Homo sapiens: one gene and its partners. The protein of the gene in region 3 purifies or fractionates together with the protein of the main gene of each other region. This does not show direct contact. Each region holds a gene or a part of one and is shown on either strand. Other genes may lie near its edges.

Region 1 (3,592 bases), on a different chromosome or scaffold from region 3:
CTGGTGATCTATCCTCTAGTGAACTGGCCTCTGATGATCTGGCCACTGGTGAACTGGCCTCTGATGAGCTGACTTCTGAATCAACCTTTGATCGTACCTTTGAACCAAAGTCTGTACCAGTTTGTGAACCAGTTCCTGAAATTGACAATATAGAACCAAGTAGCAATAAAGATGATGATTTTCTTGAAAAAAATGGAGCTGATGAAAAATTAGAGCAAATTCAGAGTAAAGACTCATTGGATGAGAAAAATAAAGCTGATAATAATATTGATGCTAATGAAGAAACTCTAGAAACAGATGATACAACTATTTGTTCAGATCGACCTCCTGAAAATGAAAAGAAGGTAGAGGAAGATATTATCACAGAGCTTGCTCTTGGAGAAGATGCTATATCTAGCAGTATGGAAATTGACCAAGGTGAAAAGAATGAAGATGAAACTTCTGCAGATCTTGTAGAAACGATTAATGAAAATGTTATTGAAGATAACAAAAGTGAGAATATCTTAGAAAATACAGACTCTATGGAGACAGATGAAATCATTCCTATTTTGGAAAAGCTTGCACCTTCTGAGGATGAACTTACTTGCTTTTCTAAAACATCTCTCCTTCCAATCGATGAGACAAATCCAGATTTGGAAGAGAAAATGGAAAGTTCTTTTGGTTCACCATCTAAACAAGAAAGTAGTGAGAGTTTGCCAAAAGAAGCCTTTCTGGTCCTCTCTGATGAAGAGGATATTTCGGGTGAAAAAGATGAGTCTGAAGTTATATCGCAAAATGAAACGTGCTCTCCAGGTTAGCATATAACTTAAATGTTAAAGATTTTTTATTGACTTTGATGAACTGTTTAATAAAACATTATCATAATGTTTTAAATTTATTTTAGCTGCAGAGAAAGTTGAGAATGGTGATGACTCTATAGAAAGATGTCTTAACTTCATAGAATTCAGAATTAGTGTGTGTACTCTGTGAGTAGCATTGTACTAAATACTAAGAAGGGAGATAAAATAAGTAGAAAATATGCCCTTATAGTCTGGAAATAGAGATGAAGTAGAGCACCATAACACTGAGATAACAGTTTAAGTTAGTACATAATTGACTAGAGTTGTAGCAGTTCTTTCTTGCTATCACTTAGCGAACAAATAACTTAGAACTAAAAGCCTAATAGTTTAATCTATTTGCTTCAAGTGTAACAAATTATATTTTCAATTAATATTCCCAATGAAATCCTGTTCTTTAATATTCTTTGTCCAGGAATGACAGCACCATTGTTGTAAGCCAGAAACCTTAAAGCTTGATTATCCATTTGATAAAGACTTTACCCATTTGCTCCCTCAGCCCTTTTGATTCTACCCAACCTATTCTCTTCCTCATTTTCTGAATGAGCTCCCTGTAACCCAATTCTCTTATTTGATATTGTCCGTCTATGTCTTAGATCTCTGTTACTTTTAGGTTGATTTCAAACTCCTTATGTAAAAGGTACATTAACTTTATGATTTGTTCAGTACCTATCTCTCCCATCTCTTTTATTTTATTTATTATTCCTAGAGAAAAAGAATGAGAAAAATTCTACCTTCTTTTATGGTCAAACTGAAAAACATTATTCCTCTATGAAACTTTCTAAGCCTGTGGAAGACTGAGAAAAGCATGAATACCTTTCTTTTCCCATTATATCACATTCTTTTAGATTTAGACATCTCTGAGAGAAGTGACCTTGCTAGCATAAAACACCATCTAATTTCTTCAAAGAAAAAAAAATGGAGGCAGGTCTAAGAGACAGAGACAACTTTTTTCCCCAATATATCATACCAGCTTTTGGAGGTAGAGATTTTTTTCTTATTAAAAAATGGCTTTTTTTTTTTTTTTGGCCAGGTAAGGTGGCTCACACCTATAATCCTAGGACTTTGGGAGGCTGAGGCAGGCAGATTGCTTGAGCTCAGGAGTTCGAGACCAGCCTGGGCAACATGGTGAGACCCCGTCTCTACAAAAGTACAAAAATTAGCCAGGCGTGGTGGCACTTGTCTGTAGTCCAGGGTACTTGAGGGCCTGAGGTAGGGGGATCACTTGAACCTGGGTGGTCGAGGCTGCAGTGAGCCGAGATCGCGCCACTACTCCAGCCTGGGTGACAAAGTAAGACCCTGCCTCAAAAAAAAAAAAAAAAAAAAAAAAAAAGGATGGCTTTTTATTTTCAAAGAGCATTCAACTAAACCTATATAAAGAGACAGGCCAGGCCCTTCTTGGTTCTAGAGATTTGAAGATAGTATTTGCCCTCAGGATACACACAAGAATTAAATCATAGGCCATTAAATACAAGACTGTGAGTACAGTGATAATGTTAAATTGGCATTCTGGGAGTGCAGATTAAGGTAACTTTATTAGAGCACCAGATGTATTAGGGATGTCTTGCCCCTTTTAATATCTGTATAACAGAGGTTTTTTTTGTTTGCTTGTTTTTGTTTTGTGAGACAGAGTCTTGCTCTGTTGCCCAGGCTGGAGTACAGTGGCACAATCATAGCTCACTGCAGCTTCCACTTTACTGGCTTAGGTGATCCTCCCACCTAAGCCCCCAGAGTACCTGGGAATACAGACATGTGCCACCACACTTGGCAAAATTTTAATTTTTTTGTAGAGACAGGGTCTTGCTATATTGGCTCTGCTGTAACATAGGGTTTTAATGAGTCTAATTCTTTTTTTTTTTTTCCGAGATGGAGTCTCGCTCTGTTGCCCCGGCTGGAGTGCAGTGGCACGATCTTGGCTCACTGCAACCTCCGCCTCCCGGGTTCAAGTGATTCTCCTCCCCACTCCGCCTCCTGCGTAGCTGGGATTATAGGTGCGCGACACCACGCCTGGCTAATTTTTGTATTTTTAGTAGAGTCGGGGTTTCATCATGTTGGTCAGGCTGGTCTCAAACTCCTGACCTCGTGATCCTCCTGCCTCAGCCTCCCAAAGTGCTGGGATTACAAGCGTGAGCCACCGCGTCTGGCCAAGTCTAATTCCTTTTAATGGCAGCTCCATCCTACTTGCTGAGGCCAGAAACTTTGGAACCATTTTTATTTTTTCTTTCACACCCCATAATTAGTCCATCAGGAAATTCTGTTGGTACTACTATCATAATAGATCTAGAGTCCAATTCACAACTGTTATTACTCCTGCTGCGAGTCACCATCATCAGGCCAAAACGGTGCCTGGCACACAGTAAGTGCCCAGTAAATATTTGTAAAGTGAATGAATAATCAATAATGTAAGAGAAGCATATCATGGAGGACCTTGGTTATAATGCTAAAGCTTTATGATGGCGCTGGAATGCCAATAAAGAACTTCAAGCAGAGAGGAGAATGAAATTTACATTTTGGAAAGGTAATAGGTGACAGTGTTGAGAATGAATTTCATCCATTTCCTATAAGTGTCTATACAGAGTGTGGCACTAGGCCAAGTCCATAAAAAAGCCTTATAAGTCCTTTAAAAAAAAAAAGTCTGTATAAGAAAGTTAAAAAAGCAAATTGCAGCTTATGATTTAATGAGTACCTTTATGTCAGAATCTTGATATTGGAGGGCATCCCACACAAGGCAGTTAAGTGCTGAGAGATGAATATTA
Region 2 (4,169 bases), on a different chromosome or scaffold from region 3:
GTGGGATACTAGTCTTTTAATTTGAAAAAAAAAGGGGTGGAGAAAGGGAAAACCAGTTTTCAAAAAAGGCCAATTTCCTAGACATTAGTGGTTGATTACTAACTCATTTCATTAAACTAAATTATGAATTGGCTTTTCTCGTCAGTGTCACCACTCTGATGGCGTTCTTTTCCATTTTCCATCTTCACCCTGGCCGAATGTGGGAAATGATCTGGTTTGTGCATAATCCGCGAGGCCCAGGGAGGATCTTTTGCCCCTATTGTTTTCTTGGGTGTTCTCACTCTGGGGGCCTGACATTCCTCGCGTGTCTAAGGCAATGAGGGAGCAGTGAAGCGCGGGGAAGCCGCACAAAAGACATCCAAAGGCTATCAATGGAAAAAGATCAATTAGGTGCACACAAGAAACACCCAATATGCCAGGGAAGAGAAAAATACCCTTTTCCAGAGGGTGGGAAATTGATTGAGCTTCTGTGAGGGTCCACAAAGAACTGGACGGATGCAGTGGTGGATGGCGATCTCTCTGGACCACTCCGGACGCGCCCAGCAGACGCAGCCTACGCCTTTAGGTCCTAGGAGGCTGAGAAGGGTGGGGAGAGGGGGGCAGCACGATCTTGTGTCTTTCCTCCCCGTGCCGCCTCTACCGAATCGCGGATGCTTCATTAATCTTGCAGGCGCCGCAGCTCGGGTCAGTATGGAGGCGGATCGGTGGCAGAGCCCGGGCCTCTGGGCTGCGCCCGCCCGTTCAGCCTGGCCCGGGAGGGGAGCGGCCGCGCGGTGGGCCAAAGACGCCCGGCCTTCCCTCCGTCTGCTTCCAGCAGGCACAGCCGGGAGGCTGGGCTCAGGGGCTGACCCGAATCTCCCCTAGAGCTGGGCCCACCCGGCTGCCCCCCGAGCAGCCTCGCCGCTCCCACGCCACCGCCCAAGTGACAGGCCCGGGAAGGCCGGACGGGACGCAGTCTTCCCGCCGGGGTCTTCCCTCCGGCTGGCCGGCCGCTGCAGGGCGCGCGCGCACACACGTACACACACACACACACCTGCCCACACACACACACACACACACACACACACACTGCCGCCTCCTTCCCGCCCCGCAGCCCTAGCAGCCCCCAACCCGCTCCCCAGCGCGCTGCGCCCCGGCGGCCTCCGCAGGCCCCGCCCCGGGGAGGAGAGCCAGGCGCGCGCGGGAGCTAGGCTCGGGGAGGGGCCGGCGGTGGGGGAGTGTCTGCTGCCCCCGCCCCTCGAGTGAGTGACTGAGCGAGGAGCTCCCCTCCCTCGCTCGCTCCTCGCAAGCTCCCGCTCGCTCCCTGCCCACTCCCGGGGGGACGTTCCGTGCCGCGGCCGCCGCGGCCGCTGCTTCTTTCACACTTTAGTTGGGAGCTGCGCGCCGCGCTCAGTTACTGGAGAGCTGGCCGCGCGCCGCCGCCTCCCGCACGCTTGCACGCGGGCCCGGCTTCGGGGTTTTGGGTTCTTACTCCAAGCGGCGGGGAGGAGGGGGAGCCCCGGACACACTGTGGGGAGGAGGAGGAAGAAGAGGAGGAGGGAGGAAGAAAAAAGACGAGGAGGACAGGGGCGGGGGGCGGGAGGCTTGCCACCTTCAGCCCCCCCGCGAACGCCCAAGGTAAGTGTGAGCCATTGCCTGCTCTGGGGCGGGGGGAGCTGGCGGTGCAGCCCGCCCCGGCTCGGCTACCCGGGCATCCCCGGGTGGGCAGGGAGGGAGGCCTGCGGGGTGTCTGCCGCACGGAAGGGATGGGAGCCGCGGTCGTGGCGCTGCCTGCGCGGGGCCCGGGCCGGGGCTGCTGCTGGTGCGGGGCTGGCGGGGTTGCTGCCAGGGACGGAAGCTGGGGTGGGGGAGCCGCGAGGGGCGTCTGCCGGCCTGGGCGGAGGGGCTGGGATGTGGTCGGGGCTGCTGACGACTTTCGTCACATCGAGGCCTGGGTGGCTGGTGTTAGACACCCCTCCCTTCCCACCCGCACCCTGCCGCCCTCAGCCTTCCTGCTCTCCTCTAGCTTTGCATGTAGCCACCGTACTTTGCAAGCCAGAGCTTGAAAGGAAAAACACAATTTAGGATCCTTTGCTAAGTATCCAAGTCCCTTCTCTCGCTCCGACTGATTGATGTGTTTGTGTGGGTGGTTTGACCCCCGGGATTTCTGAAGTTTTGACCTTTTTGGGGTGGCTCGTTTCGTTGCATCTGTTTGCCCACCTCGGTGTATTTATTATTCGTGCCCATGCGAGGCAGCCAGAGGGTGCTTGGTTATTGTACACGAAACAGATTTCACTCTCCTCTGCAGGCAGTTCGCGAAGTGCCGCCGCCGCGGCTGCCTTTGGTCTGCTGGTTAATGTCCTTTCCCTATCATCCACCCTGCTCCCTCCCTCTACGGAGGGTTAGTTTTTGTTTTTGTTTTTGTTTTTTCCTTTCCACTTACTGTTTGTGTGAGAGAAGTCCTGGGCTTAAGGGCTCTCAGCACTCGTTCATTTCTCTTCTAAAGCTCTGAATGGCTCAGGCATGTCGGTAAAATTTGGGGTGGTCCTCTTTGCTCCAAGAGTTGCATGGCCAAAGATAAAAATATGCACACATAAACACGCATTAATTCTGAGAGACGGCAAGCAGTTTGAGAGAGAAATAATTTGTTTTCAATAGGAAGTCGGTGACCTATGGGATCTCTTCCATTGCCGGTGGGTTAGGAAAATTGTTTTAAAATAGATAGTGCTTGTGTTGTCCGTGGCTGGAAGACAGCCATAGTTCAGTTACTGAAGCAATTCTGAAAGTGATACACCCTGGGCACCCAGAACCTCAGTAAAGACACACGTAGTCTGACTCAGATGTTAGGAAGGGGACTGACACACCATAGATTCCATGGAGTATTTTTTTCTTTCTTTTCTTTTTTTTTTTTGTAGGAGACTGTCCAGACCGTTTGGGGAAATGACAAGTTCATTACACAGACAGATGTAATGAACACCTCCCTATTCAAGGGGATGGGTTCAGCTTCTGCCTAATAGGAATAACCTTTTGATTTGATAGAATTGGAATGTACCAGGATAGAAACAAACATAGGTGGAGTGGGCCTGAGCTACTTCAGCACTGTTGTGGGGAGAAGGTGATGTTTCTGAAGGGTCTTTTAAGTTCAAGATGCTGAATTTGGAGTTTTCCCCCCTTTTTCATATTGTCTAGAGCTGGATTGTAGGATCAATAGAACATGTTCCATGTTGGCTGTTTGGAAATGTAATTGTCAGACATGGAAATTAATTTGGATTGGATCACCTATTTTTGTTTTGCTACTTACAAAGTAGGAAGTACCAGTGATAGGACAACGGAGTGTATTTATAGGCGTTAAACCAATGCTGGGACTGGTACTTCACAGATCACAAATGCAGCGTTGAAAGAGGATGTCACTCAATGTTTACTGCTGTGCAAACCTGCTTCAGAGAACAGTCCTGGAGGCTTCTAAAAAGGGCAACAAAGACCAGTGCGCTCAGCTCTTGGGTGGGTGGGTGCCTGAGGAGGGGCGGGGTGCTTCTGTTGTCTAGCTTTGTCACAACTGGGCATGTTTCCAAAGAAAAATGGCCTTGGGTGGTAGAGAGGTCTCACATCCTCCAGTGTTAAAAGTTCATCCTAGAAGGACCTTAAAGTTCCAGCTTTCCTTCTCAGGGTTGACTTAATTTAACTCCGAGTTTAGAAAACTGATAATTTTGTTTTCTTGGCTAGACATTTATCCCTCCTCCGCCCCATCTCACTTTATCATTCAACATGGGTTTCTGGGAATTAATAGGCCACTGTCTGAAGGGGTTTGATTCTTGAAGAATCACAGGGCATCATTCAAGAGCTTTGGTACTATTTGCTATGACTTATTCAAAAATCCTACTAAGGAGGAAGGTGGTTTGCTCTATTATAATTTCCAAGTGAATCATGCCTCAGTACTGTGTTGCCTTTGTGACCAGGCAAGCTTTGAGTTTTACATTCTGAGTGGCTTGCTCCAGGCTCTAAGCAGCCCCCTTCTATAAGACGTTTTTTTGTTTTTGTTTTTTGTTTGTTTGTTTTTGTCTAAAGGAGACACCAAAGGCTGGGAGAGGGAATGTCATGTCACCTTCCAATAGGGCAGGAGAAGGCAGGTGACATATTTACAGAAGAGTCCTAAGGTGATAAATATGACTGTCTTCATTTGAATTTATCAA
Region 3 (3,592 bases):
AACCGAAGGTCCTTGAACAGAAGGCATGCTGAGTTGGCACCTCTTGCAGCCATTTACCAAGAAATTCAGGAGACTGAACAAGCAATTGAAGAATTAGAATCAATGTGTAAAAGTAGGTAAAAGATACTTATGTGTCCTGCATAAGGGCTATGAAAAAAAAAACCACACACTTATATGCGTGTGTGTAAGTACAGATTTGATTTTCTAAGTTAAAGCTTTATTGAACTTAGTCTTTGTTTTTTTTTTCCCACAGAAGCAGGTTCTCACTTGTTGCCCAGGCAGGAGTGCAGTGACTCAATCGTAGCTCACTGTAACCTGTAAGTCCTGGCCCCCCACTTCAGCATCCTGAGTAGCTAGGACTATTGTGCCAGGGCTTTCCAAAGCGATATGATTATAGCCACCGAGCCACTGAGGCTGGCCTGAACTCAGTCTTTTAAAAAAACCTACAAGTAATAAGCTCAACACTTGGAAAGAACAGGACTCTGTACCCAGAGTATTTGACACACTTTAGCTACTAAAGATCAATGTACTAAGTAAACAGGCTCCTCGTGGTACTTCCCGTGGTCTCAAGGTCTGGGAGACAAAATGTTGGTCTTTTCAGAAGCTTTATTTTATTGAGCAGACCTTTATTGAACACTGTACCTACATACTAGGGCTACACATACAGTTCCTACCCCATCAGTGGGCTTCTATGGTCCAGTGAGAGAAACTTATTTAAGTATTGTTTATAATGTGAGACCTGCTCTACTAGAGGGAGGCACAGTTTCATGGGAGCAAAGAGGAGAGGGCACTCAAACCAGCCTGGATTGATTGGGTAAATCTTCCTGGAGGGGACTGCGCATTAGTGGAACCAGGAAGGAAGCTTTTATTTTTTATTTTTATGTTTTTTTTTTTTTTTTTTTTGAGACGGAGTCTCGCTCTGTCGCCCAGGCTGGAGTGCAGTGGCGGGATCTCGGCTCACTGCAAGCTCCGCCTCCCGGGTTCACGCCATTCTCCTGCCTCAGCCTCCCAAGTAGCTGGGACTACAGGCCCCTGCCACCATGCCCAGCTAATTTTTTTTGTATTTCAGTAGAGACGGGGTTTCACCATGTTGGCCAGGCTGGTCTCAAACTCCTGATCTCAAGTGATCCACCCACCTTGGCCTCCCAATGTGCTGGGATTACAGGCATGAGCCACCATGCCCAGCCAGTACTTTATTTCTTTTCATTACTGAATTATATTCCATTGTATGGATATACCACATTTTATTTATCCATTCATCAGTTGATGAACATTGAGTTGTTTCCACTTTTTGGTTATTATAAATAACGATACTGTGAACTTTTGTGTACAAGTTGTTTTGTGGACATAGATTGCTGGTTCATGTGGTAACTCTATGTTTAACCTTTTGAGGAAGTGCTAGACTGTTTTCCAAAGTGACTATAACGATTTTACAGCTCTACACACAGTGTATGAGGGTTCATATTTCTCCACGTACTTGCCAACACTTATTATCCGCCCTTTCAATTATTGCCATCCTATGAATGTGAAGTGGTGTGTTATTGTGGTTTTGATTTGCATTTTCCTGAAGATTAATGATGTTGAGCATCTTTTCTGGTGCTTATTTGGCCATTTGTGTATCATCTTGGGAGAAATCACTGTTCAGATCCTTTGCCAGTTTTTAAATTTAATTGTCTTTTCATTATTGAGTTGTGAGTGGTCTTTATCTTCTAGGTAAAAGTCCATGATCAGATATATGATTTGCAAAAATTTCCCATTCTGTGGTTTTCTCTTCACTTTTTTGATACTGTCTTTTGAAGCATGATATTTTTAAATTTTGATGATGTCCAATTTATCTTTTTTTCTCTTGTTGCTTGAGTTTTGGGAGTCGTATCTAAGAAAATTGCCTAATCTAAGGGCACAAAGGTTTACATCTGTGTTTTCTTACAAGACTGACGTATTTTTTATTTTTATCCCATGCATTTAGGTCTTTGATCTATTTTAGTTATTTTTGTATATGGTGTATTTATTTTTTATGTTTTTTTTTTTTGTTTTTTTTTTTAAGAGATGGTCCCTCACTCAAACTCCGGGGCTCAAACAATCCTCCTGCCTCAGCCTTCTGAGTAGCTGGGACTACCGGCTATTTTTTATCTTAGTTTTTTATTTTAGTATTTCTCAATACTGCTATTGCCTCTACATTTTTTCTCTTATGAAAATTTTCGAAAATTTTTATACAGAAGTTGAGAGAAAAGTTTAATGAACTAACCTATGATTCAACATTTATCCAGATTTGGCTATTAACTTTTAGTTTCTAGATTTTCTTCTGTGCTTCATTTTGTTTCATTTAGCCTTAGCAGTATTATGTGATACACAGGCCAGTCACTGTTATACCTGTAAAGTCCTGGATTTTTGAAGCCTTCCATTTTTCTGCCTTCTATTGATGGTACCACAAGTCTCTTACGTACGTTTAATGGAGATATTTTTTACTCTTTTGCATAATGCCACACAGATTTGTAGTTAATTAGTTTTGAGAAGGTTGCTTGTGTATAGTAGAAGTTTATGAAATGCATTCTAATTAAATTGGCATAACTTCTTTCAGCCTTGGTTGTATCATGTATAATATTAGATTGGATTACATCATTTCTAAAGGCTCTACTACCTCTACAATTTTTCTATAATAATAGTAATAATAGCTACATTTACAAAGTCCTCTTATGTGCTAGGCACTAAGCTCAGTGCTTTACAAATATTATCTCATTTGAATGCTCAGGTAACCTTATGAGGTAGGATATATGATTATTCCCCCTCCCCCTTTTTGTTTCTTTTAAGAGACAGAGTCTTGCTCTGTGGCCCAGGCTGGAATGCAGTAGTGTAATCATAGCTCACTTTAACCTTGAACTCCTGGACTCAAGCAATCCTCCAACCTCAGCCTCCCAAGTAGCTGGGACTACAGGTGTGTGCAACCATTCCCAGCTATTTTTTTTATTTTTAGTAAAGATGAGGTCTCACTGTGTTGCCCAGCCTGTGTTTTCCCTCATTTTATACATTTTATAGATGAGGACATTGAAAGGTTAAATTTGCAAAGATCACTCAGCCAGCGAGGGGAGAAGCAAGGATTTGAACCCAAGCAATGAGATTCCAAAGCCTCTGCTCTTATCCACTGCTTGATGGATGATTCAAAGTCCAGCAGGGTCTACCTTTGTGATGTAGCTTGCATGAGTCCTGTTCTATTCCTTCCACTAATTTATATCTTCATTACATCTCTGACTTAGCTGATTGCAATCAATTCCTAACTTGTAGCCCTACCTCTAGGCGTTCTAGTTCAAGTACAATCTTATTCATGTTACTCACCTGTTCCCATTGTCTATAAGTAGAGATTTCTTGGTTTGGTATTTAAAAGCCCCTGCAGATTAACCCCAGCCTCTCCATGTACTATGTTAATTCTCTTTGCATATTCTGCCTTCCAACCAAAATAGACAACTTGCCATTCTCTGGATATATTCGTGCTGTCCCATGTCTGTATCTTTGCCCACGTTGTTAACATGCCTGGTTCACCTTGTTAAAAGCCAGTCCTCTTACAAAGCTTGGCTGAGATGTCATACTTTGGCTTCAG
Region 4 (3,592 bases), on a different chromosome or scaffold from region 3:
ATAAAGTGTAAGTCATTTATCTTAGTCGTGAGTTAAATTTTAATACATCTTTGTTTTTTAAAAAAGTCATGGTAAATATATACAACATAAAATTTACTATCATAACCATTTTTAAGTGCATAGTTCAGTGGCATTAAGTATATACATGTTGTGCAACCATCACCACCATCTATCTCCAAAACATTTTTATCTTCTCAAACTGAAACTTACCCATTGAACAAAACTATTCATTCCTCCCTTCTCCCAGTCTCTGGCAACTGCCATTCTCTTTCCATCGCTATGAATTTTACTACTATAGGGACCTCATACAAGTGGAATCATACAATATTTGTCCTTTTGTGTCTGGCTTATTCACTTAAGATAATGTCTTCAGTGTTCATCCATGTTGTGGCATGTGTCAGAATTTCATTCCTTTTAAGACTGCATAATGTTTAATTGTTTGAATATACTACATTTTATTTATCCATTTATTCATTGATGGACATTTGTCTTTTCTCTTTTTTTTTTGACAAAGCTGTTAATACCCTATTTTATATTAAATAATGTTTTCTTTCCTTTCATATGTTCAGACAGATTCTTTCAAAATGGGACAAGAGTTTGTGAAACACTTCACTAGCAGTGCAGACAAGCTAACTAACCTTAATCTGGTTTCCAGAACTTTAAATTTAGATATATCAAACCAAGTTGTATCCCAAAAACCTGCTGACTGCCATAATTCTAGCAAAACATCTGTCAGTGCGACATCAGAAGGACTCTTATTGCAAGATACCTCTAAGATGAAGCGCTTCAATCAAACACTTTCAACCAACAAAAGTGGTTATACAAGTCGCAACCCTCAGTCATACCACCTACTTAGTAAAGAACAAAGCAGAAACAGTCTTCGGAAAGAGTCTTTAATATTTATGAAAGGAGTCATGGATGAATGTACTCATGTAGCAAATTTCTCAGGTACTAATTTTTATATGAAATTGAGAATATTTGCTGATGTGTAAGTATTTGTGAAATATTTTAAAAGATGCTCTATAAGATAATTTTATATTTTCAAGGGTATATTTTTTTGTTGGCTCCAGAATATGTTTGCAAAGATAAGTTGGTTACTTAAATGTATCATATTCTATCTATGAAAATTTAAGATTATCTTATTCATTAAGAAACACACTGGACAGCCGGGTGTGGTTGCTCATGCCTGTAATCCCAGCATTTTGGGAGGCTGAGGCAGGTGGATTGCTTGAGCCCAGGAGTTCAAGACCAGCCTGGGTAACATGGTAAAACCCTGTCTCTACCAAAAAAAAAAATACAAAAAAGTAGTCATGTGTGGTGTTGCAAGCCTGTAGTTCCAGCTACTTGGGAGGCTGAAGTGGAAGGATCGCTTCAGCCCAAGGAGTTGGAGGTTGCAGTGAGCCAAGATCACACCACTGCACTCCATCCTGGGTGACAGCAAGACTCTCACACACACACACAAACACACATACACACACTCTCACACACTCTGGAGCTGGACACAGTGGCTCACGCCTATAATCCTAGCACTTTGGGAGGCTGCGGTGGGAGGACCGCTTGAGCCCAGGAGTTTGACACCAGCCCGGGCAACATAGTGAGACCCTGTCCTTATCAAAAATGTAAAAATTAGCTGGGTGGCCGGGCCCAGTGGATCACGCCTGTAATCCCAGTGCTTTGGGAGGCCAAGGCGGGTGGATCACTTGAGGTCAGGAGTTTGAGACCATCCTGGCCAACATGGTGAAACCTCATCTCTACCAAAAATATAAAAAATTAGTTGGGCGTAATGGTGTGTGCCTGTAATCCCAGCTACTCAGGAGGCTGAGGCAGGAGAATCATTTGAACCCGGGAGGTGGAGGTTGCAGTGAGCAGAGATCATGCCACTGCACTCAGCCTGAGTGACAGAGTGAGACTCCATCTCAAAAACAAAAATAAATTAGCTGGGTGTGGTGGCATATGCTTATAGTCCCATCTACTCAGAGGCTGAGGCAGGAGGATCCCTTGAGCCCAGGAATTCAAGGTGGCACTGAGCTATGATTGCACCACTGCACCCTAGCCTCGGTGACAAAGTGAAACTCTTATCTCCCAAAAGAAAAACACTGGATTGCTGAGTGTGGTGGCATTCACCTGTAGTCCCAGCTACTCAGGAAGTTAAGGAGGGAGGATCACTTGAGCCCAGGAGTTCAAGGCTGTAGTGCACTATGATCTTGCCAATGAATAGCCACTGCATTTCAGCCTGGGCAATACAGTGAGATCCCATCTTTAAAATAAATGATTGAGGCGATGCATACCTTACGTACTCTGATGTGATTATTATGCATTGCATGCCCGTATCAAAATATCTCATGTAACCCATAAATATATACACCTACTGTGTACCCACACCCACACAAAAGAAATAAATTAGTTAATTTTTAAAAACCACAGTATTTTGTATCATTTTTAGAATATTTATCTCGTACTGGAGATGAGTAAGGTAGCATATTATAGTTGATTTTTAATTTAATCAAAAATGTTTAGTTTGACGAATGTTTTATTTACTGCATTGTGTGGGTTTTTTTATTTTCTAATGTGTATATGTTGAATTTTTAAAAATCCTATACCTAGTCCCAGTTGATCCAAGCCTCATTATAGTGGTTCAAGCCAAAGAAGATGCCTATATTCCACGAACAGGAGTTCGAAGTTTACAAGAAATTTGGCCTGGTTGTGAAATCCGATACTTAGAAGGGGGTCATATTAGTGCTTATCTTTTTAAACAAGGACTCTTCAGGTAAGACGGCTGGTCTAAACATGTATTCGTTCATTTGTTGTTTGTTTTCTGGATTTTTTGCTTCAACAAATGTAAAAGATCACATATTTTTATAGTCTGTTTCAATCTTTGAATTCCCTCCTCACCTCCCACAAATCTCACAGAGTTACTTTTCCCTCTTTCCTAGAATTTGATCTTCTTATTTTCTTCTAGAGAACTAAGCATGATGCATATTATAGGCATGCTTTATCGTGTGGCTTTCCCCTCTTCAAATATTAATGGCCAGGTATTTTAGGATGTGAGAAGGAAGATCATGGCTTGTTAAAGTTGCTTTGGTGCATCAAGAGTTTTTTCACTCTATTCTGATGTTTTTTCAGAATGGCCTGAACATCTGTGGAATAATTTAGCAATGTTTTTCAGTTAGCAAGTGAATATTGAACCTTAAATAAGAAGTGCTTTTAATGTGAACAACCTTATATGACTCCACTATTTTAGTTAGAACTTATAAAAACTTTTATGCTGGCTGGGCGCGGTGGCTTACGCCTGTAATCCCAGCACTTTGGGAGGCGGAGGCGGGTGTATCACGAGGTCAGGAGATCAAGGCCATCCTGGCTAACACGGTGAAACCCCGTCTCTAGTAAAAATACAAAAAAAAAAAAAAAAAAGTAGCCGGGCATAGGTGGTGCATGTCTGTAGTCCCAGCTACTTGGGAAGCTGAGGCAGGAGAATGGCATAAAACCCGGGAGGCGGAGCTTGCAGTGAGCCGAGATCACGCCACTGCACTTCAGCCTGGGAGACAGAGCGAGACTCCGTCTCAAAAAAAAAAATTTTTTTATGCTAAAACTA

Evidence for each region. Proteins that work in one complex are often made in the same cells at the same time.
Region 1: the proteins of MTRF1 (region 3) and ATF7IP purify together in Homo sapiens (affinity purification with mass spectrometry; one large-scale study listed by BioGRID and IntAct). This does not show direct contact.
Region 2: the proteins of MTRF1 (region 3) and C1orf21 purify together in Homo sapiens (affinity purification with mass spectrometry; one large-scale study listed by BioGRID and IntAct). This does not show direct contact.
Region 4: the proteins of MTRF1 (region 3) and ABHD18 purify together in Homo sapiens (affinity purification with mass spectrometry; one large-scale study listed by BioGRID and IntAct). This does not show direct contact.

Annotation. Positions count from the first base shown.
Region 1 is NC_000012.12:14,424,682-14,428,273, forward strand, and holds part of ATF7IP (activating transcription factor 7-interacting protein 1), read left to right. Parts: coding exon 1-792; intron 793-3,592. UniProt on the Homo sapiens protein: Recruiter that couples transcriptional factors to general transcription apparatus and thereby modulates transcription regulation and chromatin formation. Can both act as an activator or a repressor depending on the context.
Region 2 is NC_000001.11:184,385,752-184,389,920, forward strand, and holds the start of C1orf21 (uncharacterized protein C1orf21), read left to right. Parts: upstream 1-1,277; 5' UTR 1,278-1,617; intron 1,618-4,169.
Region 3 is NC_000013.11:41,257,013-41,260,604, reverse strand, and holds part of MTRF1 (peptide chain release factor 1, mitochondrial), read left to right. Parts: coding exon 1-112; intron 113-3,592. UniProt on the Homo sapiens protein: Mitochondrial peptide chain release factor that directs the termination of translation in response to the peptide chain non-canonical stop codons AGG and AGA.
Region 4 is NC_000004.12:128,027,906-128,031,497, forward strand, and holds part of ABHD18 (protein ABHD18), read left to right. Parts: intron 1-569; coding exon 570-948; intron 949-2,604; coding exon 2,605-2,767; coding exon of another isoform or gene 2,768-2,771; exon of another isoform or gene 2,772-3,592.